Regions from separate parts of the Homo sapiens genome. Here region 1 is linked to region 2. Evidence: fine-mapped expression QTL. A gene starts in region 2. The other region holds a variant in brackets. All regions are shown on one strand. Distances are between the middles of the regions. Region 1 holds the start of CYP4F3 (cytochrome P450 family 4 subfamily F member 3). Region 2 holds the start of CYP4F12 (cytochrome P450 family 4 subfamily F member 12).

Evidence for each region. PIP is the estimated chance that this variant, and not a neighbour inherited with it, causes the effect.
Region 1: its variant is fine-mapped to the expression of CYP4F12 in whole blood (TOPMed, PIP above 0.99).

Annotation. Positions count from the first base shown.
Region 1 is chr19:15,639,303-15,643,689 of GRCh38, reverse strand. It overlaps CYP4F3 (cytochrome P450 family 4 subfamily F member 3), which reads right to left and starts at 2,793. Exons shown (of 13, transcript NM_000896.3): 1 at 2,745-2,793; 2 at 2,077-2,275. The coding sequence starts at 2,274. The variant G/A (reference allele first, on the strand shown) is at 1,633.
Region 2 is chr19:15,671,061-15,675,447 of GRCh38, reverse strand. It overlaps CYP4F12 (cytochrome P450 family 4 subfamily F member 12), which reads right to left and starts at 2,361. Exons shown (of 13, transcript NM_023944.4): 1 at 2,313-2,361; 2 at 1,721-1,919. The coding sequence starts at 1,918.

The DNA.
Region 1 (4,387 bases), 32 kb after region 2:
CAGAGGAAAGGCTAATTTGCTCTGTTGTGGGGCTGGCACATCCATCTTCTCCTGCCCTTGGACACCAGAACTCCACCGTCTCAGGCCTTTGGACTCAGTTACACAACCAGTGTCTGTTTATCCAGCCTGCAGACAGCAGTCCATGACGCATCTCAGCTTCTATAATCCTGTGAGCCAATTCCCGAAATAAACTCCCTCTTCTATCTATCTATCTGTCTGTCTGCCTGTCTGTCTATCTATCTATCTATCTATCTATCTATCTATCTATCTATCTATCTATCTATTTACCTATATATATCTCTACATATCTACCTATCTATGTATCTATATATGTATGTATGTATGTATCTATCTGTCTATCTATCTATCTATCTAATCTATCTATCTACCTATGTTTCTATGTATCTATCCATCTATCTAATCCATCCATTCTATCTTATATATCTGTCTATCTATCCATTCATCTATCCTATCTGTGCATCCATTCATCCATCTAGCCTATTATCTATCTACCTACCTATCTATCTATTCATTTATCTATCTAATCTATTCATCCTATCTAACTTTTCTATCTATATATCTATCTGCCCATCCATCCATCCATCCATCCATCTTATCTGTACATTCATCCACTCATCCATTTATCCTATTATCTATCAATCATCTAGCTATCTATCCATCCATCTAATCTATCCATCCTACATATCCACTCTACCTATCTATCCACCTAATGTATCCATCTTATCTACTACTTTATGTATGTATTATCCATCCATCCATCCATCCATCCATCCATCCATCCATCTTATCCATGCATCCATCTGTCCATCCATCCATCTATCCTGTTATCTATCTATCTATCTGTCTATCTACCCACCTACTTATCCAGCCAGCCAGCCATCTATTCACCCTATCTGTGCATCCATCCATCCATCTATCCTATTACCTATCTATCTGTCTACATTCCTCCTGCTCTATCTCTCTTGGGGCCACCCCCAAGTCCCAAGAGCGCATCCCAAGGCAGAAGGAAAAGACACACTGTCCACTCACAGAGGCCCACTTAGCTTGAGAGGAAAAATTTCCTTGTTCTGGGAGTCATTTCAGCCCAGAGGTGGGCATATGAGGAGGTCCTCACAGGGGAGGTTTGTGGGGAGCAGTGTGGACTCAGGACATGTCCCTAAGGCTGGTCCCCACATCCCTTCATGCCCTGGCTGGTTCCTCCACCAGCCACACAGGTTCCAGTTCCTCCCATGGAGAAGGTTCTGCACACAGGGGACCTTCCCTTCTCAGCAGTCACTAGGGGAGCAGAGGTGACTCTAACTGTCCATCATGACAGTGGCTCCCACCTGGGAGAAGCTTCTGCACCAGGCTCTGTGCTAGTGCATCCTGTGCACCCTCCCACTTCACCTGTGGACACACCCATCAATCCTGCCATTTGCAATGAGCAGATTGAGACCACGTTCCGCAAAGGGGAGAGCAGGTCTAAGTCAGAGGGCAAGGTCTGGGGGAGGAGAAAGGTCAGGGAAGGCTTCTGAAAGGGGAAGTGAGTGGCCAACTTTTATGTGGGTTTGGCAACAGGACCCCATTGGGACATCTTACTGGGGAGGAACAAGATAAGAGGAAGGTGCCTCC[G/A]GATGTGGTGGAGGTGAGAGACAGCCCACACCTCTCCTCTGGCCCACCTATACCCTCATAAGAGGAAATAGGCCAGGTAGGGAGAGGACCCTGAACAGTGGGTACAGGAGGCCTCGAGTCCAGCAATGGAGAATGTGGGAACGCCAGGGGTTCACCTTTCTGTGCACCCAACCCCCTGCCCAAGAGCCCCGCAGAGGTGCATTAATGTGGAAAGACAGGCAGGAAAAGGATTCAACACAGGCCAAGAGTGGGAGAACAGGGAGGTGAGAAGGGCTTGGGTTGGCACCTCACAGAAATGAGTAAGCAGAGGAATGAGTAAGACGCCTCCCCTGCTTCTCTGCCACCCCAGACCCCAGCCCACCCCCTCTCACCTGAGCCTCATTCTTACCCCTCAGGAAGTCCATCCACCCTGAGACCCCAGACCCGTCCTGCTGCCACACTCACCAGGCCCAGGTGACCCAAGAACCAATTCCGTTTCGGGGGTTGCGGGAAACACCGGAGGCGGCAGCAGTTGTCATAGAAGGTATAGGTCCAGGCCAGGATGCGGGCCAGGAGCCAGGAGGCCCCAACCAGCAGCAGGAGCAGCCACGGGGATGCTGCCATTGGCCAAAGGCCCAGCGAGGACAGGCTCAGCTGTGGCATCCTGCAGGGCAGATGGGGTGGTGAGTGAGGTCCTGAGGCCCAGGGAAGGGCCCAGGGAGCTCCAGGGACAGTGGAGAGAGGCAGAGACGGGCAGTGCTGGAGATAGAACAGTAAGAGTAAACAGGGATGGATAAACAGGGGCTGAGGGGTAAAGTCCAGAAAGGCCCAGCCAAAACCAGCAACCAAGTGGCCTCCAGTTACCCGGTAAGCACTTAGATTGAGAAAGACAGAGAAACTGATTAAAGTCCAGAAAGGCCCAGCCTGAATCATTAGGACGTTGCCAGGGGCTTGGTTTCAGTTAGAAAACCACTCATCCTCCAAGCCAGCAACCAGGAGCTGCCTGGGCCTTGGGCAGCAATGGAGAATGTGGGAAGGCTGGGGCTCCCCTATGTGTGCGCCCAATCCCTTGCCCAGTGCCCATCTCCATCACAGGCTAGGATGCCCCAGGCCCACCACCCCCACCCTGGCACCTTCTGTCAGGAGCACCTTGTCCCACACAACCTCCTCTCCCCTTCTTCTGGGAGGTTTTTTCCCCTGGCCCCTGATGTAGGGAAGGCTGTGGGAGGCTAGGCTGGGCTGGGCTGGGCCAGCCAATCCCCACAGCCTGGGTGCCGCTCCCATGTCTGGGCAGCTGGCCAAAACCTGGGTGTGGGAGACCAGCTGGATGCAGAGGAACCAGCTCAGGGTGACACAGCACAGGCACTGGATCCTCAGGTCTCAGCACCTCCCACATAAGGTGGAGAGTAAGCCGAGAGGGGTCAGATAGAGTTTCCACTGTGTGACACCTGCTCTTAAAGAGCACCTACTGAGTGTGTGGCAGATAAAAGCATGAACTTGAGAGTTCAGGTGTCAAGCGAGCCAGGCCAGGCCAAGCCTTGTTCCAGATCATCTCCTGTGCTCCTCTCTAACCCTGGGCCGGTAGGACACCGTGTACCACTTCTGGATGCTGAATCAGGCAACCTGGAAGAGACAAGCCTCTATCCCCCTGCTGCTGGATGGAGTTCAAGTCTTGCCTCCAGGCAGTCCAGGGCCCTGTTGGAGACCTGACTGCTAGGAACGGGAACAAAGAATCCAGCCCCACTGAGGATTACCTGGGTCAGATTCTGGAGATTAAGAGCTCAGCTGGAAAAGCAAATCTGGAGGCCGGACTCAGTATAGGAGGACAGAGCGGGGACGTGGAGGGTTAGGATGAGAGGGAACGGATGGGGTCCAGGCAGGGGAAGGGCAGAGCCAGGGAACCATGAATGGAGTCCTCATTCTGCCTCATCCTTGCTCTGACTTTGGTCAGTACTGCCCCTCCTGGGTGCAGTCTTCCCATCTGGGAAATGGGATGTTCGATGAGGGCCTTAGCGGGGGACAATGAGGGCTCCTAAGAGGAGGGAGCCCCAAAAAGGAGTGAAGGGAAAGGGTGGCAACTAGCACTTGAGCTGCTGTGTGCCAGTCTCTACTCTGCACAAAGGCTGCATGGAAAGTACTTCTACTGTGTGCCAATACTCTAAATGAAGGGCAGCTACTGTGTGCCAGGTGCTAAATCCTGTCTACTCTGTGCCAAGTGCTTTCCATAAAGTGTGCCTACTGTGTGCCAGGTGCTCTACATTAACCCTGTATACTCAGTTCCTGATATTCCTCATAGAGTGCCTACTGTGTGCCACCTGCTCTACATAGTGAGTGCCTATTGAGTGCCACCCCCTGTATATGAAGAGTGCCCACTGAGCACCAGTTGCTGTCTACATAACACATGCCTACTGAGTGCCAAGTGCTCTACATAAACAGTGCCTACTGATACCACCTGCTCTATATGGTGACTTCCTACTGAGTGTTTCCTGATCTACATAAAGAGGGTCTATTGAGTGCTGCCTGCTCGAGTGTTGCCTGTGCTCCATAAAGTGTACCTACTGTGGGCTGCCTTCTGTACATAAAGGGTGCCTACTGAGTGCTGCTTGCTCTACATGAAGAGTTCCTACTCTTGCCTGCGCTACATAAAAAGTGCCTACTCAGTACCACCTGCAATACATAAAGAGTGCCTACTGGCCAGGCACAGTAGCTCATGCCTGTAATCCAAGCACTTTGGGAGGCCAAGGCAGGCAGATCATCTGAGGTCGGGAGTTCAAGA
Region 2 (4,387 bases):
CACAGACAAAGGGCCTGCGTCCTGAGGGCCCTCCATTCTCAGCAGCCTCCAGGGGAGCAGAGGTGACTCTAATGTCCATCAGGATGGCAGCTCCCACCTAGGAGAGCCTCACTTATGCCAGGTTCTGTGCTAGTGCCTCCTGTGCACCTGTGGACACACCGATCAATCCTGCCTTTTGTAAGTGAGCAGACAGAGGCCACATCCCCCAAAGGGGAGGGCCGGTCCCAGTCGGAGGGAAAGGTTTGGGAGTACCAAGGACGGCTTCTGAAAGGGGAAGGGAGTGGCCAAATTATATCCAGGTTGGGCTACAGGGCTCACTGGGACATCTTACTGGGGAAGAGCACATTGTCCCTGGAAGGAGAGGGTGTGGGAGACTGCCTGCACTTCTCTTCTGGTCCAGCTGTGTCCCTCCGTGGGGAAGGAAGTCAGAGATAATTCCTGCGGGAAAGCAGCAGCCCAGAGATGGGCAGATACAAGCAAATGGGCCATGCAGGGAGCAGCCTGTCTATCGGGGCTCAGAAGGCTTCAAGTCCAGCAGTGGAGAAGGTGGGAATGCCAGGAGAGCCCTGCTCTGTGCACCCCACAACCATACAGGAGCCTCTGGGAGGGGCACTACGGTAGGGAAGACAGGCAGGAAAAGGATCCAAGCAGGCTGAGGTGGGAGGACAGGGAGGTGAGAAAGGTTTGGCATGGAACTGCAGAGGAATGAATGAATGAGGAAAGGAATGAGTCGGTGGGTAGAGGAATCAGTGAATGAGGAGAGGAATGAGTGAGTGAGGAGAGGAATGAGTGAGTGGGGAGAGCAAAAAGTGAGTGGATAGAGGAATAAGTGAATGGGTAGAGGAATGAGTGAGTGGGCAGAGGAATGAGTGAGTGATGAGGGGAAGGAGTGAATGAGGAGAGGAATGAGTGAGCAGAGGAATGAGTGAGTGAGCAGACGAATAAGAGTGAGGAGAGGAATGAGTGAGTGAGGAGAGGAATGAGTGAATGAGAGGAATGCGCGAATGAGAGGAATGCGCGAGTGAGGAGAGGAATGAGTGAGTGAGGAGAGGAATGAGTGAGTGGGTAGAGGAATGAGTGAGTGAGGAGAGGAATGAGTGAGTGGGTAGAGGAATGAGTGAGTGAGGAGAGGAATGAGTGAGGAGGGGAATGAGTGAGTGAGGAGAGGAATGAGTGAGTGAGGAGGGCAATGTGTGAGTGGGTAGAGGAGTGAGTGAGTGGGTAGAGGATTGAGTGAGTGGGTAGAGGAGTGAGTGAGTGGGTAGAGGAATGAGTGAGTGAGGAGAGGAATGAGTGAGTGAGGAGAGGAATGAGTGAGTGAGGAGAGGAGTGAGTGAGTGAGGAAAGGAGTGAGTGAGTGGGTAGAGGAATGAGTGAGTGAGGAGAGGAATGAGTGAGTGAGGAGAGGAGTGAGTGAGTGGGTAGAGGAGTGAGTGAGTGGGTAGAGGAGTGAGTGGGTAGAGGAATGAGTGAGTGGGTAGAGGAATGAGTGAGTGGGTAGAGGAGTGAGTGAGTGGGTAGAGGAGTGAGTGAGTGGGTAGAGGAGTGAGTGGGTAGAGGAATGAGTGAGTTAGCAGAGGAATGAGTGAGCCATCTCTCTTGCTTCTCTGGGGTCGCAGACCCCAGCCACCATCAATACCTAGCTCACTGAGCCCCATTCCTGCTCCTCTGGAAGTCCATCCACCCTGAGACCCCAGACACATTTTGCTGTCACACTCACCAGGCCCAGGTGACCCCAAAACCAGTTCCGTTTTGGGGGCTGTGGGAAACACTGGAGCCGGCGGCAGTTGTTATAGAAGGCATAGGTCCAAGCCAGGATGCGGGCGAGTAGCCAGGAGCCCACAACCAGCAGCAGGAGTAGCCATGGGGACGTTGCCACCGGTCTGAGGCCCAGCCAGGGCAGGCTCAGCAGCGACATCCTGCAGGGCAGAGGGGATGCAGGGTGAGGACCTGAGGCCCAGGGAAGAGCTCCGGGGACAGTGTATAGGGGCGAAGTCAGGAACTGCTGGGGGCAGGGCAGGGAGGGCTCAGGGGTGAGTAAACGAGGGCTGAGATCTGAAGTCCAGAAAGTCCCAACCAAAACCAACAACTAAGTGGCCTCCAGTAACCTGGTAACCACACAGAAAGGGAAAGAGATGGGCCGATTAGAGTCCAGAAGGGCCCCACCTGAATCCTTGGGAGTTTGCTAGGAGTCCAGTTACCAGGAAACCCCCAGTTTCCCATGCCAGCATCTTGGAGCCACCCCAGCCTTAGGCAGTCCCCTCTTCATCCCAGGCCAGGACCTTCCAGCCCTGCCACCCCCAGCCTGGTACCTTCTGTCGGGAGCAGCTTGTCCCACACAACCTCTTCTCCTCTTCTGCTGGGAGGTCTTTGGCCCTGGCCCCTGATCTAGGGAAGGCCGTAGGAGGCGGGGCTGGGCTGGGCTGGGCTGAGGCAGCCAATCCCCACAGCCTGGGTGTGTCTTCCGTGCCTGGGCAGCCAGCCAAAACCTGGGGTTGGGCCCACTGGGTGCAGCTCAGGGTGCCCCAGCACGAGCACTGAATTCTCAGGTCTCAGTACCTTCTTGGGAGTTTGCAGGGGAAGTTGGAGGGTGGTTAGAGGGGACTCTGAACCCCAAGTTTACCTCCACCCTGCCCTTCCAAGACAAGGGTGTTCAGATAAAAGCATATACTTATCATGACAGTTGGCAGCCAGCTGAGCTGGGCCAGGCCAACCCTTGTCCCAGATCATCTGGGCTCCTCTCCAAACATGGGCGGGGAGGATGTCAGGCACTACATCTTGGTGCAGACTTAGGAGATTCAGAGACAGAAGCCTCTCATCTCTGGCTTCACAGCCTGGCAAGAGTTCAAGTCCTGCCTCCTGGCAGCCCAGGGCCTGAGTTGAGGCCTGACTGCTTGAAGCAGGAAGAAAGAATCCAGCCCCAACCCCGCTGAGGATTACCTTCGTCAGATTCTGGGGATAAAGAGCCCAGCTGGAGGAGCAAACCTAGAAGCTGGGCTCAGCTTAGGAGGACAGAGCGGAGGCACAGGGGATGAGGCTGAGAGGGGCCTTGAGCTGACGGGGTCCAGGCAGGGGAGGGCAGAGCAAGGGGATCCCGAGTGGAGTCCTTGTTCTGCCCTGTCCTTTCTCTGACTGTGGGCAGTGTGGCCATCCTGGGCTCAGGCTTCCCATCTGGGAAATGGGATGTCAGATGAGGCCTTAGAGGGCGACGGAGGAAGGCTCCTAAGAAAAGGGAGCTCCAAAAAGAGGGACTGAAGGGAAGGGGATGACAACTAGCACTTGAGCTGCTGTGTGCCTGTCTCTACTCCATGCGAAAGACTGTACGGAAAGCACTACTGTGTGCACCTACTGTGTGCCAGTTTCACTATATAAAGTGCACTTACTGTGTATCAGATACTGTACATAAATTCTGTCTACTATGTGCCAGGTATGCCACATAAAGCTCACCTACTGTGTGCAGCATGCTGTACATAATGTAAGCTTACTTTATGCAGAGTACTTCATATAAAGCGTGCCTACTCTGTGCCATGTGCTGTATATAAAGCATACCTACTGTGTGTCAGGTGCTCCACATTGAGCATGTGTACTACGTACCTGGTGACCCACAGAAAGCGCACCTACTCTGCATCAAGTAATCTACATAAATCTTGTCTACTGTGTGCTGGCTATTCTACATATAGTGCACCTACTGTGTGCCAGGAGCTCCACATAAATACTGTCTACTGTATGCTGGGAGCCCTTCACAAATCCTGTATCTTGAGTCCCTGGCCCTTTATATAAACCATGCTTGCTGTGTGCCAGGTGCTCTAAATAAAGCACACCTACTGTGTGCCAGATGTTCCACATAAAATGCTTCTCCCGTGTGTTAGGTCCCCTACATAAAGTAAAACTACTCGGTGCAACATACTTGACATAAAGCACACATACTGTGTGCCAGGTACACTATATAAAGTGTGCCTTATTGTGTGCCAGATATGCTACATAAAGAGCACCTACTGTGTGCCAGGTATGCCGCATAAAGTGTACCTACTATGTGCTAGGTACGCCACATAAAGTACACCTACTGTGTGCCAGGTGCTCTACATAAGGTGCACCTACTATGTGCCAGGTGCTCTATATAACGTGCACCTGCTTGTATCAGATGCTCACCTGCATCACAGTGCCCAAAGCTGTCCCACCACCCTCCCAACAGCTCCCTAGGCCAGAACCCTGGGCATTGTTGAAGAGACCTGAGTGATGGCATCCAGAGGAGAGAAGGTGTCCATTTAACACAAAAGCAAACTGAGGCTCAGAGAGGGCAGGCCTCTAGTCCAAGTTGCAGAGCTCATAGGAACTCAAGACTATGAGACCCTCAAGTCCAAATCCGTTCCCTCTGCCATGCTGCTCC